Regions from separate parts of the Homo sapiens genome. Here all the other regions are linked to region 3. Evidence: fine-mapped expression QTL. A gene starts in region 3. Each other region holds a variant in brackets. All regions are shown on one strand. Distances are from middle to middle.

Region 1 (5,151 bases), 260 kb after region 3:
AGCAAGACCATGGCTCTTAAGGCAAGGTTTGCCTTATACAGTTTTTTGGGGCTGGAATAACAGCATTTGACAGAACATGATACTACCGTATGTAGTGCATCAATTAATACTTGTTAACTCTCAAACATAGGGTCACAGCCAAGCAGAGCTGCTACTATGTGGGATATATAGGGCCCCTGGAAAATTGTTTATTGTTATTTAATTTTTATTTCATAATTAATAAACTTAACTGTGCAATCCAGCTAGATGTGAAGGGGATAGGAAAAATATAGAACCCAAAGAACTGCAGTGAGAGCACAAAGATTATAGGATATTGCAAGTAAATGGGGTGGAAGGGTGCTTTCCTGAGCTACAGAAAAAATGGTCTGGTGGTTAAGATAAAACAAGTCAAATTTACTAGCATTTCCCACAATTGGCAATGGTGATATTCTTGCTGGTCTTGCCATTCCTGGATCCAAAGTGCTCCATGGTTTCCACAATATTCATGCCCTCTTTTATCTTCCCAAAGACAACAGGCTTGCTATGTAACCACTCAGTCTTGGCCGTGCAGATGAAAAACTGGGAATTGTTTGTGCTGAGTCCTGCATTTACCATGAACATCACGCCAGGACCTGTATGCTTCAGGATGAGATTCTCATCATCAAATTTCTCTCTGTAGATAAGCTTGTCACCAACGCCATAATGGCATGAAGTCACCACCCTAGCACGTAAGGCCTGGAATAATTCTGTAAAAGTAAGAACCCATATAACAAAATCCTCTCTCGCCAGCTCTCAAGTACAAAATTTTCTGCTGTCTGTGGAACTTTGTCTGCAAACAGCTCAAAGAAGACACAGCCCAAGTTGATGATGGCATCAAAGAACACAGTGGGATTGACCATGACGGGTGCAGGTGGCTCTGGGAGGCATCCATCTGCAAAGCAAGGAAAATATATGTATACATTTTAAGAAGCCTTGCCTAACTAAACAGTTTTATTGAAAATGCTTTACAAATTGTGTGGGCTCTGGAAAGTATAGTGATTTATCAATAAAAATTCAGAATAATGGGTAGAAAGGAGTAGAAGAGATGCTTACATATTTATTTATTGTCAAATCAGGGCAAATATCCAGACATCATCTCTTCCTATTTTGGTCTAGGAATCATCTTTTCATCTTCTTTATTGTCACAGATGCCATTCCTGGATAATTTCACATTTCCCACCATGACAAAAAGATAGCGGTACCTTTTTTCATGTGTCTGTTGGCTGCATAAATGTTTTCTTTTGAGAAGTGTCTGTTCATATCCTTCGCCCACTTTTTGATGGGGTTGTTTGATTTTTTCTTGTTAATTTGTTTAAGTTCTTTGTAGATCCTGGATATTAGCACTTTGTCAGATGGGTAGATTGCAAAAACTTTCTCCCATTCTGTAGGTTGCCCGTTCACTCTGGCCATCAGAGAAATGCAAATCAAAACCACAATGAGATACCATCTCACACCAGTTAGAATGGCAATCATTAAAAGGTCAGGAAACAACAGGTGCTGGAGAGGATGTGGAGAAATAGGAACCCTTTTATACTGTTGGTGGGACTGTAAACTAGTTCAACCATTGTGGAAGACAGTGTGGTGATTCCTCAAGGATCTAGAACTAGAAATACCATTTGACCCAGCCATCTCATTACTGGGTATATACCCAAAGGATTATAAATCATGCTGCTATAAAGACACATGCACACGTATGTTTATTGTGGCACTATTCACAATAGCAAAGACTTGGAACCAACCCAAATGTCCATCAATGATAGACTGGATTAAGAAAATGTGGCACATATACACCATGGAATACTATGCAGCCATAAAAAAGGATGAGTTCATGTCCTTTATAGGGACATGGATGAAGCTGGAAACCATCATTCTGAGCAAACTGTCACAAGGACAGAAAACCAAACACTACATGTTCTCACTCATAGGTGGGAATTGAACAATGAGAACAGTTGGACACAGGATGGGGAACATCACACACCGGTGCCTGCCATGGGGTGGGGGGTTGGGGGAGGGATAGCATTAGGAGATATACCTAATGTAAATGACAAGTTAATGGGTGCAGCACACCAACATGGCAGATGTATACATATGTAACAAACCTGCATATTGTGCACGTGTACCCTAGAACTTAAAGTATAATAATAAAAAAATGAAAAAAATGAATTATGGCAGGCTTCAGAAACCATGCAAGTCTGGAGACAAATTGGCATGTTTAAACTGCTGAGAGAAGGGAAAAATAATAACTCTCCACAATTCTATACGCAGTGTGAATATCTTTCAAAAATGAAGGAGAAATTAAGACTTTTCACACAAAAGCAGAGAATTCATTACCCAGAAGCGGACTATAAGAAATATTAGAGGAAGTTTTTCAGGCTTAAGTTCTACATACCAGAGAGAAAGTTGGATCTACACAAAGAAATGAAGATTCCAGAAA[T/A]GGTTAAAATGAAGATAAACGTAAAAGACTTTTTCTGACTTTTAATAGCTGTAAAAGATAATTGATTAGCTAAATTTTAAAAATAGTAGTAGTGAAAACAGGGAAAAGAGTGAGTACAGGGAAAGTACAGTAGTTTTGTGGGTGTGTAGCATATGTAAAAGCAAAATGTATGACAGCCATAACCCTAGTACACCAGTTGGGGCACCACACAGTGAAGAGGTAGAATACTCCTTGAATCTAGACTGTGATTAGTTTAAGATGTACATTGAAAATCTTAATTGTGGTGGCAGTTATATGACTGTATGCATTTGTCCAAATTCATAAAGTTGTACACTTAAAAGATTTAATCTTACCAATTATATATTATACTGCCTCCCTGCAAAAAAAAAGTTAGCGGTACCATCATGACTCACAATGTCATGACTCTTGGGAACCTGTTTATATTGGAACCATACAGACCTGCTTGTCTCTTCAGTTCCCTAGGTCCATTTATTTAATGCTGGTTACATCATTACACATGTCACTGGATCTTCTACTGTGTGGCCTGTTTCCAATAACTCTCTCCAAGGTAATTACTGCGATTCACTGTTGATGACCACAAATGCAAGTCTCACTAAGAGAATTATGGAAAATGTGAACAATAACCCATTTTGAGGTCCTTTAGTTTAAAATTGTGTAGCATAAAGGTAGAACAGCATGTTTTCCAACTCTATCTTCTCTTGAACTCTTTGAGCTGAATGTGATCTCTTCTGATACTGACCACCCTCCTGTCTTCCATACACCACCACTAGAATCACTTACCAAAAAAAGTTACCTTTTTTTCATGTTAAAAAGTGTTCAACAGAAATGAGTTTTTCTTTTTTTCTTTTTTTTTGAGATGGAGTTTCACTCTGTTGCCCAGGCTGGAGTGCAGTGGTGCAATCTTGGCTCACTGCAACCTCCGCCTCCCAAGTTCAAGCGATTCTCCTGCCTCAGCCTCCCGAGTAGCTGGGACTACAGGCACGTGCCACCACACCCAGCTAGTTTTTTGTATTTTTAGTAGAGACGGGGTTTCACCATGTTAGCCAGGATGGTCTCGATATCCTGACCTCGTGATCTGCCCACCTCAGCCTCCCAAAGTGCTGGGATTTACAGGCCTGAGTCACCACGCCTAGCCGAGTTTTTCTTTCTTTTCTTGTGTGGCAACTTTCCATTATGCCTGGCATTCCGAGTCATGCATGTGTGCAAGGTTTTGCAAAATCTTAGAGATAGAGAAGAGGCCAAAAGATGAGGTGTGAGGGACATTTCACAAGTTATGAAAATATAAATTCAAAAAGGTATCACTAAAACTATCCTACTAAATTATATTATTGATAGCATCCATTAAAATAGGCTATTATCAAAAAAAACAACAACAAATGCTGGTTAGGATGCAGAGAAAGGAGAACACTAGTCCACTACCGGGGGGAGTGGAAACTGGTACAGCCACTGTGGAAAACAGTATCGACCTTCCTCTAAAAACTAAAGATAGATGTGCCATACAATTCAGCAATCCCAAAAGTCACAATATCGAATCAGCCTAAGTGTCCCTCAATGAATGGATTAAAAAAAATTGTATACATATACACAATGGAATACTATTCAGCCACAAAAGAATGAAGTTCTGTCATTTGCATTAACATAGATGGAACTGGAAGATATTATGTTAAGTGAAATAAACCAGGCCCAGAATAATGGGTAGAAGAAGTGGAAATATTGCATGTTCTCACTCATATGTGGTAGCTAAAAATATTGAGCTCATGGATGTAGAGAGTAGAATAATAATTACTAGAGGCTGGGAAAGGTTGGGGATGGGAAATAAAGAGAGGCTGGTTAAAGGTGCAAAAATACAATTAGAAGGAATAAGTTCTAGTGTTCCATAGCATAGTAGGGTGACTATAATTAACAATAATTTGTTGTATATTTCAAAATAGCTAAAAGAGAATATTTGGAATGTTCCCAACATAAAAAATAAAAAAATGTTTGAAGTGACAAATCTCCCAATTACCCTGATTTGATCATTACACATTGTATGCATGTTTAATACATATCACACGTATCCCATACATATGTACAATTATCATTTATCAATCACTTGAACCCAGGAGGCGGAGGTTGCAGTGAGCCCAGATTGTGCCATTGCACTCTAGCTTGGGCAACAAGAGCAAGACTCTGTCTCAAAAAAAAAAAAAGAAAGAAAAGAATGGATGCTATGAATGATAGTTTAATAAAATTTTTATTGATACATGATAATTGCGATTCTCCTGCCTCAGCCTCCTGAGTAGCTGGGATTACAGGCGCCCACCACCACACCTAAATCATTTTTGTATTTTTAGTAGAGACGGGGTTTCACCATGTTGGCCATGGTGATCTTGAACTCCTGACCTCGTGATCTGCCCACCTCAGCCTCCCAAAGTGCTGGGATTACAGGCATTAGCCACCGCACCCGGCAGCATCCATTATTTTCTTTTTTTTCCCCCCAAAAGCTATCATACTCCTAGAAATAGAGAGGCCCTTCTGGGCAGGTCTGTTGTGATTAGGAGAGCCTTCCTCTGCCTCCCAGAAAAGACACCAAGCACACACTGGACCTGTGTGATTAAGCGGCACTGAGAGGCCTATTTTATAATTTTAAAACTTGTTAAGTTTCTTTGGTCACCATTAATCTCTGCCACAATCACATG
Region 2 (5,151 bases), 130 kb after region 3:
TCCTCTACCTCAGCCTCCCAAGTAGCTGGGACTACAGGCATGTGCCATCATGCCTGGCTAATTTTTGTATTTTTAGTAGAGACAGGGTTTCATTCGCTATGTTGGTCAAGCTGGTCTCGAACTCCTGATCTTAAATGATCTGCCCGCTTCGGCATCCCAAAGTGCTGGGATTACAAGTGTGAGCCACCACGCCCAACCCCCATATGAATTTAAAATTTTTTTTTTCTAATTATGTGAAGAATGTCAATGGTAGTTTAATGGGAATAGCATTGAATCTATAAATTGCTTTGGGCAGTATGGTCATTTTCATGATATTGATTCTTCCTATCCATGAGCATGGAATGCTTTTCCATTTGTTTATGTCCTCTCTGATTTCTTTGAGCAGTGGTTTGTAGTTCTCCTTGAAGAGGTCCTTCACTTCCTGATACTCTTCCATGTTTAATATGCAAAGTGAATCTATATACAAAGAACAAACCCTGCTCATTTATTCATTTGTATCTCATGTCTGGTCCCTACAGCCATTTAACTTTGCAACTCCTGGTCTCACTCACAGATCTCTGGGTGTTCTTGAAGTGTGTATTATGCTGTTAATTTACTCCCAGGGCTACCTTGCACTTTGTTTCCTTAATCCTCCACTGCCTACAGACCAGGGGAGGCAGGTCATGCATCTAAAAGTCAAGGTTCTGGGTGGCTCTTAATTGCTCCTCTGAATTTGCCTTATTGTCTACAGATGGGCCATAACATTTATTTCTAATTTAGCAATAAATACTATATACTTAGTGACTCCTAGTATAAAAGAATCTGGATACTCTAGTTCAGTTGCCTCCGTAATCATTTAATTTTCCTTGTAATTGAGGTTATATGTAAATACTGTAACCATAAACTAATGTAGCCAATAGTGTAACCACCTAACAGGTTCTCCTTGCCCACTGCCTAGAGAGAGCCAGTTTATTAAGACAGGGGAATTGCAACAGAGAAAGTGTAACTCGTGCAGAGCCACAGTATGGGAGACTGGAGTTTTATTATTACTCAAATCAGCCTCTCCAGAGTTCAGGGATCAGAGTTTTTAAGGATAATTTGATGGGTAGGGGGTTGGAAAGTGGGGCGTGCTGATAGATCAGGTCAGAGATGAAATCATAAAAAGTCTAAGTTGTCCTCTTGCACTGAATCAATTCCTGGATGGAGGCTACAAGATCAGATGAGCCAGTTTATCGATCTGGGTGGTACCAGCTGATCCATGGAGTACAGGGTCTACAAAATACCTCAAGCACTGATCTTAGGTTTTATTATAGTGACGTTATCCCCAGGAGCAATTTGGAAAGGTTCAGAATCCTGCAGCCTCCAGCTGCATGACTCCTAAACCATAATTTATAATCTGGTACCTAAGGTGGTAGTCTTGCAAAGACAGTGTAGTCTTCAGGTAGGAAGGTGGTTTGTTTTGGCAAAGGGCTGTTACCGTCTTTGTTTCAAAGTTATACTATAAACTAAGTTCCTGCCAAAGTTAGTTCAGCCTATACCCAGGAATGGTGTAACAGCTTGGAAATTAGAAGCAAGGTGGAGTCAGTTAGGTCAGATTTCTTTCACTGACATAATTTTCTTAGTTGTAATTTTTGCAAAGTCAGTTTCAATAGGTTTTTATGAATAGGAGGAAAGAAAGAGAGGGAAAGAGGGAGAAGAGGAGGGAGGAAAAGAGGGAGAGAGAGAGGAAGGAAGGAAGGAAGGAAAAAAAAGGGGCAATAACCATGTAACCGCCTAAGGGGTTCACCTTGCCCACTGCGTAGACAGAGCCAATTCACCAAAATAAGGGAATTGGAATAGAGAAAGAGTAATTCACGCAGAGCCAACTGTGCAGGAGACCAGGGTTTTATTATTACTCAAATCAGTCTCCCCCAGCGTTTGGAGAGCAGAGTTTTTAAGGACAATTTGGTGGGTTGGGGGAAGCCAGTGAGCCAGGAGTGCTGATTGGTTAGGGATGAAATCACAAGGAGTCGAAGCTGTCTTCTTGCGCTGAGTCAGTTCCTGGGTGGAGGGCACAAGATCAGATGAACCAGTTTACCGATCTGGATGGTGTCAGCTGATCCATCACATGCAGGGTCTGCAAAATATCTCAAGCATTGATCTTGGGAGCAGTTTAGGGAGGGTCAGAATCTTGGAGACTCCAGCTGCATGACTCCTATCCATAATTTCTAATCTTGTGGCTCATGTTAGTCCTACAAAGGCCATCTAGTCCCCAGACAAGAAGGAGGTCTGCTTTGGCAAAGGGCTGTTATCATCTTTGTTTCAAACTATAAACTAAATTTCTCCCAAAGTTAGTTCAGCCTATGCCC[A/G]GGAATGAACAAGGACAGCTTGGAGGTTAGAGGCAAGATAGCTAGCGTTGGTTAAGTTAGATCTCTTTCACCGTCTCAGTCATAATTTTGCAAAGGCAGTTTCAACCATAGTCAGCCCTCAGTAAGTACTAACCATAATATTGTCAATGATTGGCACCAGGCTTGGTGTGTTTTGCTCCACCTCCTGCCTCCTTGGTAATTCCTCAGCCTGCTGGGGACAAGGCAAAAGTCTTTTTTCAGTTTCTCTTTATATGAATTGATCATTTTTCAACTGCTAGGTTTTCTTTGGGGGACTGAGGCAGAAGGATCACTTGAGGCCAGGAGTTCAAGACCAGCCTGGTCAATATAGCGAAACCTCATCTCTACCCCGCCCCCGCAACAAAAAAAAAATCCAAGGTTTTTTTAAGGACCTTGTATGTTAAAAATGAAAGTGAAGAAGTAGATCTGACGGTAGTTACAGACACTACCCTGTTTCTACCTTCCACTCTGTGCTCTCAAATCCCAACATCACCAACATAAATAAATGGTGATTAGATGCTTTAGCCAGCATTTGCTCTTGCCTTAGGTAAATGGCTATTCGAATGGCCAGGGACTTTGACATACTCATCCAACTGAAGCTGAACTCAACTTGGCAGGCTCTGCCCAGGTAGAAGGAGCTTTGAATGGGATTTTAGCAAACAATCAGATGTTACCAAAATCTTATTAGGAGAACAGCATGTAGAGTTACCCTGTGGTCTCTAGCTCAGGGCCTTGAGGGAATATCCTTTCAGAGCCTAGATGGAGCCCCATGGTCAATGCACCAAGAAAATAAAGGACTTTAGCCTGAAGGTGACAGATGGAGGACTAAATTACTTTAAACTTTTGTCCAAAATACATAAACATATTGCTAGAATAATATCAGTGTTGGTTTGAATAGCCTGTTGGATTGGTTGAGATGAAGTAAGGAGCTGGCAGCTGGGCTCATCTGGTAGCACAGATAAGAACCTAATTAGCTCTATGAAAGAGGAAGCCCTGTGCCACCTCCCCAGAGCTGTGTGAGGCCCAGGGGCACACCTTCCAGCTGCCTGAGGCTGCTGCCTCCTCCCAGTCCCACTGAGGAAAGGAAGTGCTCTTTCTCTCCTGATAGGACAAGGATGACCCAGCAGATGGGCACGTGGGCAGGCAGAGCTCTCAACTACCTTTTCTCTTAGCATGGGTGACAGTGTGTATGACCACAGACCTCCCTTCCTTCCTCTTTGCTTTTATGGACCAAGCGATGGAAGGAAATGACAATAAGGAAATCTTCCTTACACAAATATGTAAGTATGCATTCCTCTTCATCAGACACAATCACAACTTAAAGAACTTGCATCAGTCTTGTGAGCTGGCCCCTAACCCCTGACTATAATCTATTATTCTTAAGATACCTACTGAGAGAACTTATTCAGATAAAACATTTTAGGGCTTTTTGGAGCTTTTCTATTTAAAGAATAACAAGCTCCTTCTCTAGTTTTCTTTAACAAACTAAGCATATGACAGGCAGAGGTTACAGATTTTTCATAGCTTACTTCCTCCTGAAATTTAAGTCTGTGGTTAATCAAGCTCTGTGAATGACAGTTTCTCCCTCGAACTTTGTGGGCTAACACAGCTCTCTGAACACCCATAATTTGTTGGGTTTTTTTTTTCTTTTTTTCCTGAGCAGTGTAAACAATTGTAAAGCTTTAAATAAATAAGCTATAAGAAGTTTTCCCAGGGTCTTGATTCTGTGACTCCACCAGGTGTCAAGGTCTCTGAACCGGCTGCCCTTAGACACGTGCCTGAACTCAAAGCAGTCATACTGTTAAGGGATAGACTTGGTGCTGTAAACTTAGCCATTTTGGTTTTTGTTTGTTTGTTTGTTTTCAGACAGGGTCTCATCTCCCAGGCTGGAGTGCAGTGGCACGATCATAGCTCACTGCAGACTTGACTTTCTGGGCTCAGGTGATCCTCCCACCTCAGCCTCCTGAGTAGCTGAGTATAGCACGCACCACCACCCTCAGCTAATTTTTTATTTTTATTTTTTTGAGACGGAGTCTCACTCTGTCACTCAGGCTCTAGAGTGCAGTATCGCGATCTCGGCTCACTGCAACCTCTACCTCCCAGGTTCAAGCAGTCCTGCCTCAGCGTCCCGAGTAACTGGGACTACAGGCGTATTTTTAATAGAGACAGGGTTTCTCCATGTTAGCCAGGCTGGTCTCGAACTCCTGACCTCAAGTGATGCACCCACCTTGGCCTCCCAAAGTACTGGGATTATAGGCATGAGTCACCCTGCCCAGGCTATTTTTATTTTTGTATAGATAGGGTCTCACTATGTTGCCTAGACTGGTTTCAAACTCCTGGGCTCAAGCGATCCTTCCACCTTGGGCTCCTAAACTGCTGGGTTTACAGGCGTGAGGCTGTTTTGATTTCACTTGTAGGGAACAAAGACTGACACTGGCCGGGTGCAGTGGTTCATGTCTATAATCCCAACATTCTGAGAGGCTGAGGCAGGCAGATTGCTTGAGCCCAGGAGTTCAAGACCAGCCTGGTCAACATAGTGAGACCCTGTATCTACCAAAAATAACTTAACAACAACAAAAACAAATGCCCTGCTTGACTTTGTCACAGTGTTTTAATTTTCATTTACATCACCCTTCTCTATGTGGCACTGTGCGTGTGGCATCTATGCTGCTCAGGACACAGTGAGGTGTCTGGTTGTCAGGGTGAGCAAAGACCAGGGCAGGCAGAGGGACCTCAGATTCCGGCTTCACTGCTTAGTGTCAGCTGATTGGCTTGAGGCAGAACCAGCCCTCCAGGAAGTCCTTTC
Region 3 (5,151 bases):
AAATTATGACATCATACAAATATAGGCACAAATTAAGTGGACGCCACAAAAGGTGTGTCAGAAAACACTGAATTGACTGAATCTGAGTCAGATTTCCCCCTCGTGGACTTTAGGATGCCCTCAGCTATCACTGCCTCGCTGGGAAAGAGCCTGACTTTCCCGTTCTGCCCTGCTGCAGTATCCTTCAGGGGTTCCAAAAACACCACTCTTTTACCTGCACCTGCCTTCCGTTCATCAGCGGAGGCATCACTAGCGGGGCCAGGACTGAGAATCGATGAATGGGCATTGCTTTGGTGTAGCATATTTTTCTGTCTCTTGGTTTTACACTTGCAGGGGCATGGAGTCAGATAGAGGTACAAAAGTACCAAAACGATACTGGCCACGCAAGCAGCAAGAGTGGTAAAAGCTGTGTTAAATGCCTCATGAGCATGGGATCTGCTTACAGTGAAATTGCTCACATTTATTGTGACGTCCACAGTTTCATTTAACAGGCGTTGCTTATTCATTGCGATACAAGAATACACTCCAGCATCCTCAAAACGAGGGCTTTCTATAACCAGACTTCCATTGTGAAACACGTAAAAGTTTTCCATCTCTTTATCCGGCTCTAGCAGTCTGTTATCTGGACCCACCCAGATGAAATCCGTATTTGCATTACCTGTCTTGCTGTCACAGTGGACCATCAGTCTTTCCCCGACCTGAGCCTCATGAATAAAGCCAAGCGCACGAAAGGAACCATTGATGATGCTGTCAGAGCAATTCATAAAGCTATCCTGGAGCAGAAGTACCTGACGCGAGTGCCTGGAGTCAGACCACAGGCGACAGGTGTAATCGTTCTTAAAATCCATCACTGAGCTAAAGTGCCTACGATACCAAAAGACCAGCAAGGAGTACAGGGAACAGTCACAGACAAATGGGTTTCCATGAAGGTAGATGCCTCTCAGCTGTTTTCCTGGCACTAAATTTATGTGGTGCATTGGCATGGAAGGAATTCGGTTATAAGAAACATCTAAAAACATCAGTTCTGCCAGCTTGAACCTTCCAACATACAAATCCATCGGAAACTGTGTGAGAAAATTTCCACTTAAGTAGAGTTTCTGCAACTGGGAGAGCCCTCCAAACGCTGAAGGATCGAGATAGGATATGTGATTGTTGTAAAGCAGAAGCACTTCCAGAACCTTCAACTCTTGGAATACAGCATTTTTCACCGTCTTCAGCTTATTGGACGATAAGTCAAGACACTTCAAATTTGGAGTTGTGGAAAAACTGCCCGTGGAAATGCTGGTGATGTTGTTATGACGAAGAATTAGGGTGTTCAGCTTTGCAAACGATACTGGAATCCACTCAGAATCCAGAAGCCCAATTCTGTTATAACTCAGGTCCAGTCTCTTAATCAGTCTGAAAAGGTTCCCAGGCACCTTGGACAGGTTTTTGTTGGTGCAGCTGACGATGTCAGTGGCACAGATGCAAGCGGTGGGGCACACCCCAGAGGCACCAGGGCCCACAGTCACTGTGATCATCAGCAAACACAGCAGCTCCCTGCAGCCCGGTCTGACGACGGCTCCAAGCAGGGTGGGCAGAGTGTGTACACGTAACGACATTATGGTCGCCTCTGAGTCTCTTCCCGGTGTCTTTTCCACCGGCTCAGCCTCCCACCAGTGAACCTGGCAAACAATTAATAATTCAGAGGGAGTAAAAAGCAGAAACTGACTACCACTAGTTAACCCATAAGAGCCATACCTTACTTTCTTTCCAATAACTTTTGAAATGGGTTTTATTTCACAATAGGGAGCTCTGTGTTGCCTCTTCACTGTTAAATGTATTTTTTCCTCTTTCCTGGGTTAGTCCTGCTTATAAAAATGTACAGTCACATTCTCTCCATACAACCCACCGTCTCACCCACCATCAGAAACTCAATTTTTTCCTAAGGTGCATCCTGCGTTGTTGTTGTTGTTGTTGTTGTTTTAAACTCCCTCCAACAGACACAACTATACGCAAACGTACGCTACAAACAATTAAACGGAAATACTTAGCAACCACCCATCCAGGAAAAAACTCACGGTGCTGGGGAGCCTCGTGGGCTCCGGGGAGGCTGCCTACGCAGTGCCTTCCGAAGGTCTGCGCGTCCGTCTGTCCGTGTCTGTCACTCTTGCACCTTCCGACTTCCTTTCCCTCCGGCTCCCGGCGGGCGGCACCCTCTAGCCGGCTCTCAACTTTGAGGAGTTTCAAGCAGCCGCGGCGGCAGCAGCAGCCCTGGACGCAGCAGCCAAGCTCTTCGCTGGCTCCCGGGGGCTCTCCCGGGTTCCTCTCATTGCAGGCTGAAGGTACCGCCTCGGCGCTCTGGCCGCCGTGTGCCCGCGCGCGGGGCGCCCCGCTCCCAGAGCCGGGGCCGCGGGAGGGGGCGCAGGCAGCCGGGCGGCAGCGGGCGGCCCCGCCTCTCCGCACTCGGGAGGCTGCAGGACCCGGGGTTCCCGCGCGCCCGGGGCCGGGAGACGGGCTGGGGCGCCGGTCCCACCCCTGCGCGTCCTGCCTCCTGCGGGCAGCAGCTCGGAGCCTGCGGGAGGGAGCAGGCTGGGCGCGTGGTGGGGGGCGCGCGATGCGGAGGGGGCGGCGGCGCAGCCAATCCGAGAGGCGGCCGGCGCCCCCTCATACCGCCCCGCGGCCTCGCCGCCTCCTCCCGCTTTCCTCCTCCAGCTCCCACCCGGACCTCTAGAACGGCCGCGCAGAGCGGGGAGGGGGCAGGGGTCCACACCAGAGGCCCAGACTCTGGTCCTTGAGTCAAGATGCCCAACCCACTCGCCTACCAATTACGTCCCTTCGTCCAGCTCCAAGCCGGGCGGTAATGGGGTCCAGGAAGGCTAAAGGGGACACGCCCAGCCACCGAGGGAGGGGTCTCACCCTTGGAGACCCACTTCGCGGCGGCCGCACAGGTCACGTCTCTCTCCCCACCCAGGCCAAGGAATCCCCGGACCTCTTAGAGCTTTGCTTTGGGGCAAGGGCCAAGGAGGCTTTGCCTGCGCCAAGTGCAGTTGACTGTCTGGGTTTACAAAATAAACCCAGAAGCAGCCTGACGTCTCCGCTCGTTTCTAGGGAGGAGGTCGCGGGGAGGGAAGTCGGGAACGTTTCCTCTCCACAGGGATATCTGCTGGGAGGAAGTAACCGGGAAATCGCCACGGGGACACCCCTCACCTCCCTGGGAAAGTTCTATCCCTTTCCTGACTCAGGAGGCGGCAACAGGGATGGTGTCCAATTCAAGAAGGAGGAGGGCAGGAAAGAAGGCTTGGAGCCGACCTTCCGGCTGGAATGCAAAGATAAGAGTATTAACCCAAATAATAATAATAATCCCAGAGCAGACCTTTTTTTCTTTTTTCTCTCTTCTCCTTCCCCTCTTCTCTCTCCCTCTCTCTCTCCCTCTCTCTCCTTTCTCTTTCGTTCTCTCTCTCTCATTTCCTCTGTCTCTGTCCCCGCCACCTCCCCGTCTTTTGCAAGCGTGCTCGTGGCGCGTGCGGGACAGGGAAGTAAGGGGCGTGTGCGCGGAGGCTCTTCATCCCTTCCGGAGATGCCGCGGCCGACCAGCGCGCTTTGGTTCAGCAAGCACAGAAGGTGCAAGCCGAACAAGGCCATTCAGAAATGAGGTGGAGACTATGAGGCTGATGAGCTCTACGATTAAAAATCCATTTTTGTTTAATTCCAAGATAAGTTTTAACGATGGGATTTGAGTGAGTCAGATCGCCCATTTGGCCATTATATCCGGATTAAAAGAAATAAATTACTGCCTTGACAAAAGATGCCAACCACAGTGGAATGAAAAGCAACCAAATTGAGGAAACAGTTGGGGCAGGATAGATAACTTGTAATATTACTTAAAAATAAAAATGATGAGGACAACCAACTCTTCCTCCCCTCCCCCGCGCACCTTTTCACTTGAGCAATCTTGAATTTAGTGAAAGTTGTTTCCTACATGGTCCGTGAGTCATTGCTGTGGTCAGGCAGATTTGTTAGACCAACACCTAATTTAAATAGAATTGTTTGTGGAATAAAGCCGGGCTAGCACTAATAAATCTAGGCATTTTCAGATGAGGACAACTTGATTCAGATTAATTTATTTCATGAAAGTTGAATTTTATCATAAGAACACAGCCTAAAATGCTTCATGCAAGCATTTCTTACTGTGTACTTAAAGGGGAGAGGCAGAAGTTGAGATTTTCTAGTATTAGGCCACACTTCCTGGGATTCTCAAAAGCTTGGTCTCCAGGACTTCAATTTTATAGAGTTAGAATAGTTAATACAGAGGAATAGAATTAAAATCGCTCAGAGGAATATTTTTTAAATGACTAATAAATGACCAGGTTTTTGCAGGATTTTACTAATTAACATCGTATTTTAAGGAAACCATGAAGGCAGAAGAAAGACCTGTATTTAATGCAAAAATAGTCTAAAAAGAATAAGTGATTCAAAAAAATGGAAACAGGAAGGTTATATTATTATAACTACAGGCATATTGTAGAAACATTATGCAGAGATTACACAGCAAAAGTAAACTAAATGCACTCAAAATCCATAGACAAGGCTATTTATCCATTTGAAGACCTGATTTGGGGGATTTCACATGTTTGTGAAAGGGAAGAACGTTGTAAAAGGATTGAGTTTACTAGCTGGGAGGAAAGAAAGATAAGAGTTGATCTTAAGGTATAAGACGTGACCTTATTTTGTGGAGGATAACATTTTTATCTTTCTAGCATCCCTTCTCCTTCTAACAGATTCCCTCTTTCCACTAGAAGGTAAATTCCAAGAGGATAGCAGTTTTATCTGTTTTGTGTATTGCTGTATTCTCAGCTCTCAGAACCCTGCTTAACACATTCAATAAATTTTTGATAAATGAACTGATGAACAGGGAACCTATTCAAAGTGGTTAAGATAACGGTTTACCCCAACTGAATCTGCTGGTTGCTGTCCTGCCTTTTATGCTTTGAAAGCTTGTCTTAAAAAAAAGGAGAAGAAAGAGAAAGAGGAGTCCTGTAAATGTTATTTGAGTCCTGGATCTGGTAGTACCTGAAGGCCACTGCATACTTTTACTTCCTTTTTAATTATATTTTCCACCCCACCCCCTTTTTTAGCTTAAATTATTTTGAGTTGCATGTCACTTGTGAC
Region 4 (5,151 bases), 110 kb after region 3:
CTTTTTTTTATGTTTTAATAGACTTTGATTCCTTCAGTGTTCTGATAACTACAGAATCTCTGATCATGACTCCAAGGAAGACAAGGGCCCCCGCACCAGTTGGTGCTATGCTAGGCAGTGGGGATACTGCATGAACAGAACAGATATGGTTCCTGCTGAGGCAGAGCTGACATTTTATTGAGGAAAATAGACCATTAGGTACTTAAACCAGCAATAGAGAGAATATTTTTCTTTTTCTTCTTTTCTTTTTCTTTTTTGTAGAGAAAGGGTCTCCCTATGTTGCCTAGGCTGGTCTTGAACTCCTGGGCTAAAGCGATTCTCCCACCTTGGCCCTCCCAAAGTGCTGGGATTGCACCGCACCAGGCCAAGAATATTTTCCATTGTAAATGTATAAATTAGTAAATGAAGTTTACCTCAATCCCATGTGTGTTTTAGTTGGTGTGAGCTGTACCTTGCATGCTTACCCTCTGGCTACTTGCAAGAGGCAGGCTGGAGACAGTGGTGTGCTGGTAAACGACCAGCTGGGGAAGGGGAGGTGGTTTGATTTATAGCATTTGCAGATTTCCATGATGCAAATACTCCCGCCACATTGGATTTCAAACCATCCAGGTGATGCCAAGTAGCTTCCTGGAAATTTAACCATCTGCTCTCGGTAACTGCTGCCAGCAGCTCCAGCACACACCACTGGTTCTAGCCCTTCAAAGCAAGTTTAGCTAGCATTCTTCTCATCACAGACTTTTGAGTTTCACAAGCTAAGTAAAAGAATTTTTAAAAATTAGAGAAAGACTTTCTGAAATCTTTTTTCTTCCCTTCCTTCCTTCCTTTTTCCCTTCCCTTTTTCCTTCCTTCTTTTACCAAAGACACTAAAAAAAAAAAAAAATTACAATCTACAAATACCGTCATTTCATAAAAGAAAGGATATTTTAATTTTTTAAAAGTGGGAATAACATAATTTCAGAACAAAGATTAGTCCTTTAAATTTAATGAATCCAGATCTATGAAAATTTTATTACCTTACTTATTTTTCTAATTTTATTATGAACTAGGGAAAGTTTTGTGTATGCATTGGAATGTTTTTGGCTACAGGTGAAAGAAACCTGGCAGAGGTTAAGTAACCTGGAGTTATTTTTCTTACCTAGCAAGAGGTCTAGAGGTGAGTGGTTGCTGGCAGTAGTTCAACTGTGTAGTAATGCTGTCAGACTCCTTCTTTTTCCCTAGCTTTCCTTTCCACCAGCTTTAGCTTGTAAACTTGTTTCCTCATGTTTGTAGCCTCATAGTCACAAGATGTTGCTGCATCTCCAGGTAGATGAAAGGCAGGAGCAAAAGGCCTTTATATGGATTGAACTGTGTCCCCAAAAAAGATATGTTGATATCCTAACCCAGATACCTGCAAATGTGGCCTTATTTGGAATGCAAATGTAATTAGTTAAGATGAGGTCATATTGAACCAGGGTGGGCCCTAATCCAATAACTGATGTCCTTACAAAAAGAAAAAACAGAGACAGACACAAGAAGAGAACGCTATGTGAAGGCAGAGACACACACAGAGGGAAGACAGCCCTGTGAAGAAGGAGGCAGAAGTTGAAGTATTGAAGCTGCAAGCCGAGGAATGCCAAGTATTGCTGGTGTAGGAGAGGAAAATAATTACCTTTTCTGTACCCATCCTAGGTTCTCCAGCTAGGGAAAATTAGACTGCATATTAGAGTGGCCCGGCACGGTGGCTCACACCTGTAATCCCAGCACTTTGGAAGGCTGACGGGGGTGGATCACTTAAGGCCAGCAGTTCGAGACCAGCCTGGCCAACATGTTGAAACCCCATCTCTACTGAAAATACAAAGATTAGCTGGGCTTGGTGGCAGGCACCTGTAATCCCAACTATGCAGGAGGCTGAGGCAGCAGAACTGCTTGAACCTGGGAGGTGGAGGTTGCAGTGAGCTGAAATCGTGGTACTACTACTCCAGCTTGGGCAACAGCAGAGCTAGACTCAGTCTCAAAAAAAAAAAAAGACTGTATATTAGACTGACAAAAGACAGATTAACAAGAGAAAAACAAACAAGTTTATTGAAATATGCATTGCACATACACATAGGAGTATTCAGTAATAAGTAATTCAAAGGAGTGGTTAGAACTTGAACTTAGTCTGGTGCAGTGGCTCACACCTGTAATCCCAGCACTTTGGGAGGCCAAGGTGGGCGGATCACGAGGTCAAGAGTTTGAGACCAGCCTGACCAACATGGTGAAACCCCATCTCTACTAAAAATAACAAAATTAGCCAGATGTGGTGGCACGCCCCTGTAATCCCAGCTACTCAGGAGACTGAGGCAGGAGAACTGCTTGAACCCAGGGGGCAGGGGTTGCAGTGAGCCAAGATCGCGCCCCTGCACTCCAGCCTGGGTGACAGAGTGAGACTCCGTCTAAAAAAAAAGAAAAAAAAAAAGAACTTGAACTTACATAGAATTGAGCAAAGAACAATAATTTTGTAGAGAAGTGGCAAGACAAAGGAAAATGACTTTGAGCTTCTAGGGGCAGCAAATTGTGGGAAGGCAAATATATGGGGAAACTTATGGTAGATGAGGGCTAGTTAATACGTTTTGTTTTTGTAGATTCCTCTGGATGACATCTTGTCTCCAGTGATAAGGTGTTGTCCCTTTATGTTATCCCTTTACTGGTAGGGGGGTAGAGGGGGGCACTTTCACAAGGGGAGCTTATGTTCTGTTTTCAGGCAGATAGGAGGCGGACAGAGATCTCATCCTGGGTCTGCTTTTTCTCAGTTGCCTTCAAGTCAAAATAATCCATATGCCAGAGTGGCATATTGTGGGGTGGCATAATCCA[A/T]ACCCCTTCATTGGCAAGCATCAGAAGCCAGGAAGAGACAAGAAAAGGTTTTTTCCCCTACAGCTTTCAGAAGGAGCATGGCCCTGCTGACACCTTATTTCAGTCTGAGGGCCTTCAGAATTGTGAGATACTACATTTCTGTTGTAATCTACCCAGTTTGTGATACTTCGTGATGGCAGCCCAAGGAAATTAACACAGCACAAAATCTTGTCTTTACTTAGGATATCTCCAGCTGATTTCTTTTTATATCCTATTGGCCAGAACAAGGTCAAATGCCCAAACCAAGAACAACCAATTGATAAAGGGAAGGAGATTTCCATGACTGGTTAGGCCTATCCTGGAGTCGGGGACCACTCTCCTTGGAAGCAAAGATCTCTCCTTACCACCTGAACACACTGAAAGAAGGGAAAATGGCTCTTGGGGAGGTAGTGGGTAGTGCCTATCACACTTGAAGGTGGACCACTGTGCTGCTCTGTGGACTTTAGAAATGCTGCCCTACTTAACAGTGTTTGAGATTCATCTCAAAACAGATCTTTACCTTCTCCAGAAGCACTCAGGAGTTTAGGTGAAAGATCCAGGTGGATAGCTCCAGGGTAAGAAGTTAGAAATGCTGACACTATGTGAGAGATAGTGTTCATAGGGAGAGACCATGGGATCTTACCTAAAACCAAGAAATGGGTGGTAAATGTAGTGAAAAGGAAGCACCAGGAAATTGGAAATCTCAGGGAGGAGAAAAGGCAGGTGAAATGATCTGGTACTGATGAAAATCCCCCATCTCTACATCAAGGGGATTATTAACTCAGTTTCAAAAATAGAGAACAAGAGAGAAAAAGAGAAACAGGGATGCTGTTTTAACTATAGGCAGCAGTATATAGTAAGACATATTTTTAATCTTTTATCAGTGAAAGTGTAAACAGTTAAATCCAGCACTAAATAATAAATGTGTCAATATTTTAAAATATATTTTTTCATAGCTAAAATTAGAACTAAACATGCTAATGAACTCAGCACCAAGGGCTGGAGGTGATGGAGAGAACATTTCATCTCCCAGGCAACTCCCAACTCTGCAAGTTCTAGAATTCCTAAACATTAAATTTTCTTCATTGAAGACATATTTGGGAACTATAGCTTCATCATAAGGCAGCCAAGTCTTGTGATATATGGGTTAAAGGAAAGTTATGCTTCTCCTGGGGTCTTCCTCTACATTTCCACCTAGACGGGCCTGGGTCAAAATGTAGAGGAAGACCCCAGAAGGAGCAAAACTTTCACCTGCGCCTCTTCCACCTGGGTCTGTCCTTTATCCTACCAGCTCCAAGAACAGGATTGTAATTGGTCACCTGATCTACCTGCATCTTCCTGACTGCAACAAGTTCTTTGCCCTATAGCTGCTTTATTTCCACAGTTTGTCTTACCTGGAAGCACCTCTTCCTTCTTGGAGTCCCTTCTGTTCCCCAGACATACCTCTGTCATGGCACCATAGCATTTTGTGGCTTTTAAAAATTACATGTCTTATCTCCCCTTACTAAGGACTTTGGGGACAGTGATCTTGCCTTAGTTGTCTTTGGGTTCCCAGCATCTAACACCATTGGGGTCTCTTAAATGTTGGATGAATAAATAAATTATTAAAGGCTAATCTCAGGGGGGAATAGAATATGTCATAAATTCCTCAGCTGGAACTCATAGGGATCAATGATGTCCCACACAAAAGCCCTATAGGGACAAGAATTCAGGAAGGGTGTTAGCTGCAAATCTTCCTGGCCTATGGAGAAGCATGGAATATACTGTGAGCCATATATGTCCCTGAAGCTAATCTAATCTATCTCAATGAAATTATATGCTTAGGTATTGTCATCTCAGTTTCTAATGTGTAACTTTTGCTTTCCTTGGAAATTGAAAGGATTTGAGCCATTTCTTAGGTAGTTTCAGGACGATACTGCTTCTCAGAGTTAAGGACTTCCTTTTTTCAATGTGTACCTGAACATCCAGAAGTTAAAAACAAGAGTAGCAGAGTCTTGCAGATGCAAACATAGTACAGAAGTTCTCATCCATCGCCCAAATTGAAACGTGCAATGTAAGCTGTAGCCATCCAGTTCCACTGCAGTGCTGGAGCAGAGGAGCAAGGGAGTTGGGATGAATGTGAAGAACTCAGAGGACCATTGGGAGCATATTCATTTCACTCATTCTCCGTAAAAAACAGGCATGTTGCTGGTAACCTGGACTTTTTCCAACCCTGGCTACACAGTTGCTGGATTTAGGTGCCAGACTCCTGTTGCTTCTTATTGCAAAATGCCCCCACATGGCATTTTGCCCCATTTTCAT

Which allele goes with the higher level. Positions count from the first base shown, and alleles are read on the strand shown. Sizes are in standard deviations (SD) of each study's normalised expression. Not every link is listed here.
With allele A in place of T in region 1, the expression in monocytes after LPS of the gene that starts at base 2,558 in region 3 is lower (moderate effect, 0.53 SD a copy in Quach 2016).

Evidence for each region. PIP is the estimated chance that this variant, and not a neighbour inherited with it, causes the effect. A credible set is the group of variants that fine-mapping cannot tell apart.
Region 1: its variant is the best candidate, but not a certain one, in a credible set for the expression of AMIGO2 in monocytes after LPS (Quach 2016, PIP 0.58).
Region 2: its variant is the best candidate, but not a certain one, in a credible set for the expression of AMIGO2 in whole blood (INTERVAL, PIP 0.88).
Region 4: its variant is the best candidate, but not a certain one, in a credible set for the expression of AMIGO2 in lung (TOPMed, PIP 0.54).

The regions. Positions count from the first base shown.
Region 1 is chr12:47,341,212-47,346,362 of GRCh38, forward strand. It overlaps LOC124900322 (small nucleolar RNA SNORA64/SNORA10 family), which reads right to left and starts at 5,086; the gene lies at 4,955-5,086. It also overlaps the pseudogene PPIAP45. The variant T/A (reference allele first, on the strand shown) is at 2,453.
Region 2 is chr12:47,204,051-47,209,201 of GRCh38, forward strand. All of the region lies in intron 2 of PCED1B (PC-esterase domain containing 1B), which reads left to right. It overlaps PCED1B-AS1 (PCED1B antisense RNA 1), which reads right to left. Exons shown (of 3, transcript NR_026544.1): 3 at 4,370-5,151. Among named protein-coding and RNA genes, the nearest start is that of PCED1B-AS1, 9.8 kb to the right of the region's middle. The variant A/G (reference allele first, on the strand shown) is at 2,328.
Region 3 is chr12:47,077,402-47,082,552 of GRCh38, forward strand. It overlaps AMIGO2 (adhesion molecule with Ig like domain 2), which reads right to left and starts at 2,558. Exons shown (of 3, transcript NM_001370299.1): 1 at 2,061-2,558; 2 at 1,741-1,847; 3 at 1-1,664. The coding sequence starts at 1,601. The coding sequence ends at 33. PCED1B (PC-esterase domain containing 1B) reads left to right here and starts at 2,220. Exons shown (of 4, transcript NM_138371.3): 1 at 2,220-2,324.
Region 4 is chr12:47,183,801-47,188,951 of GRCh38, forward strand. The region is part of intron 2 of PCED1B (PC-esterase domain containing 1B); the gene reads left to right. It overlaps MIR4698 (microRNA 4698), which reads left to right and starts at 4,012; the gene lies at 4,012-4,091. The variant A/T (reference allele first, on the strand shown) is at 2,833.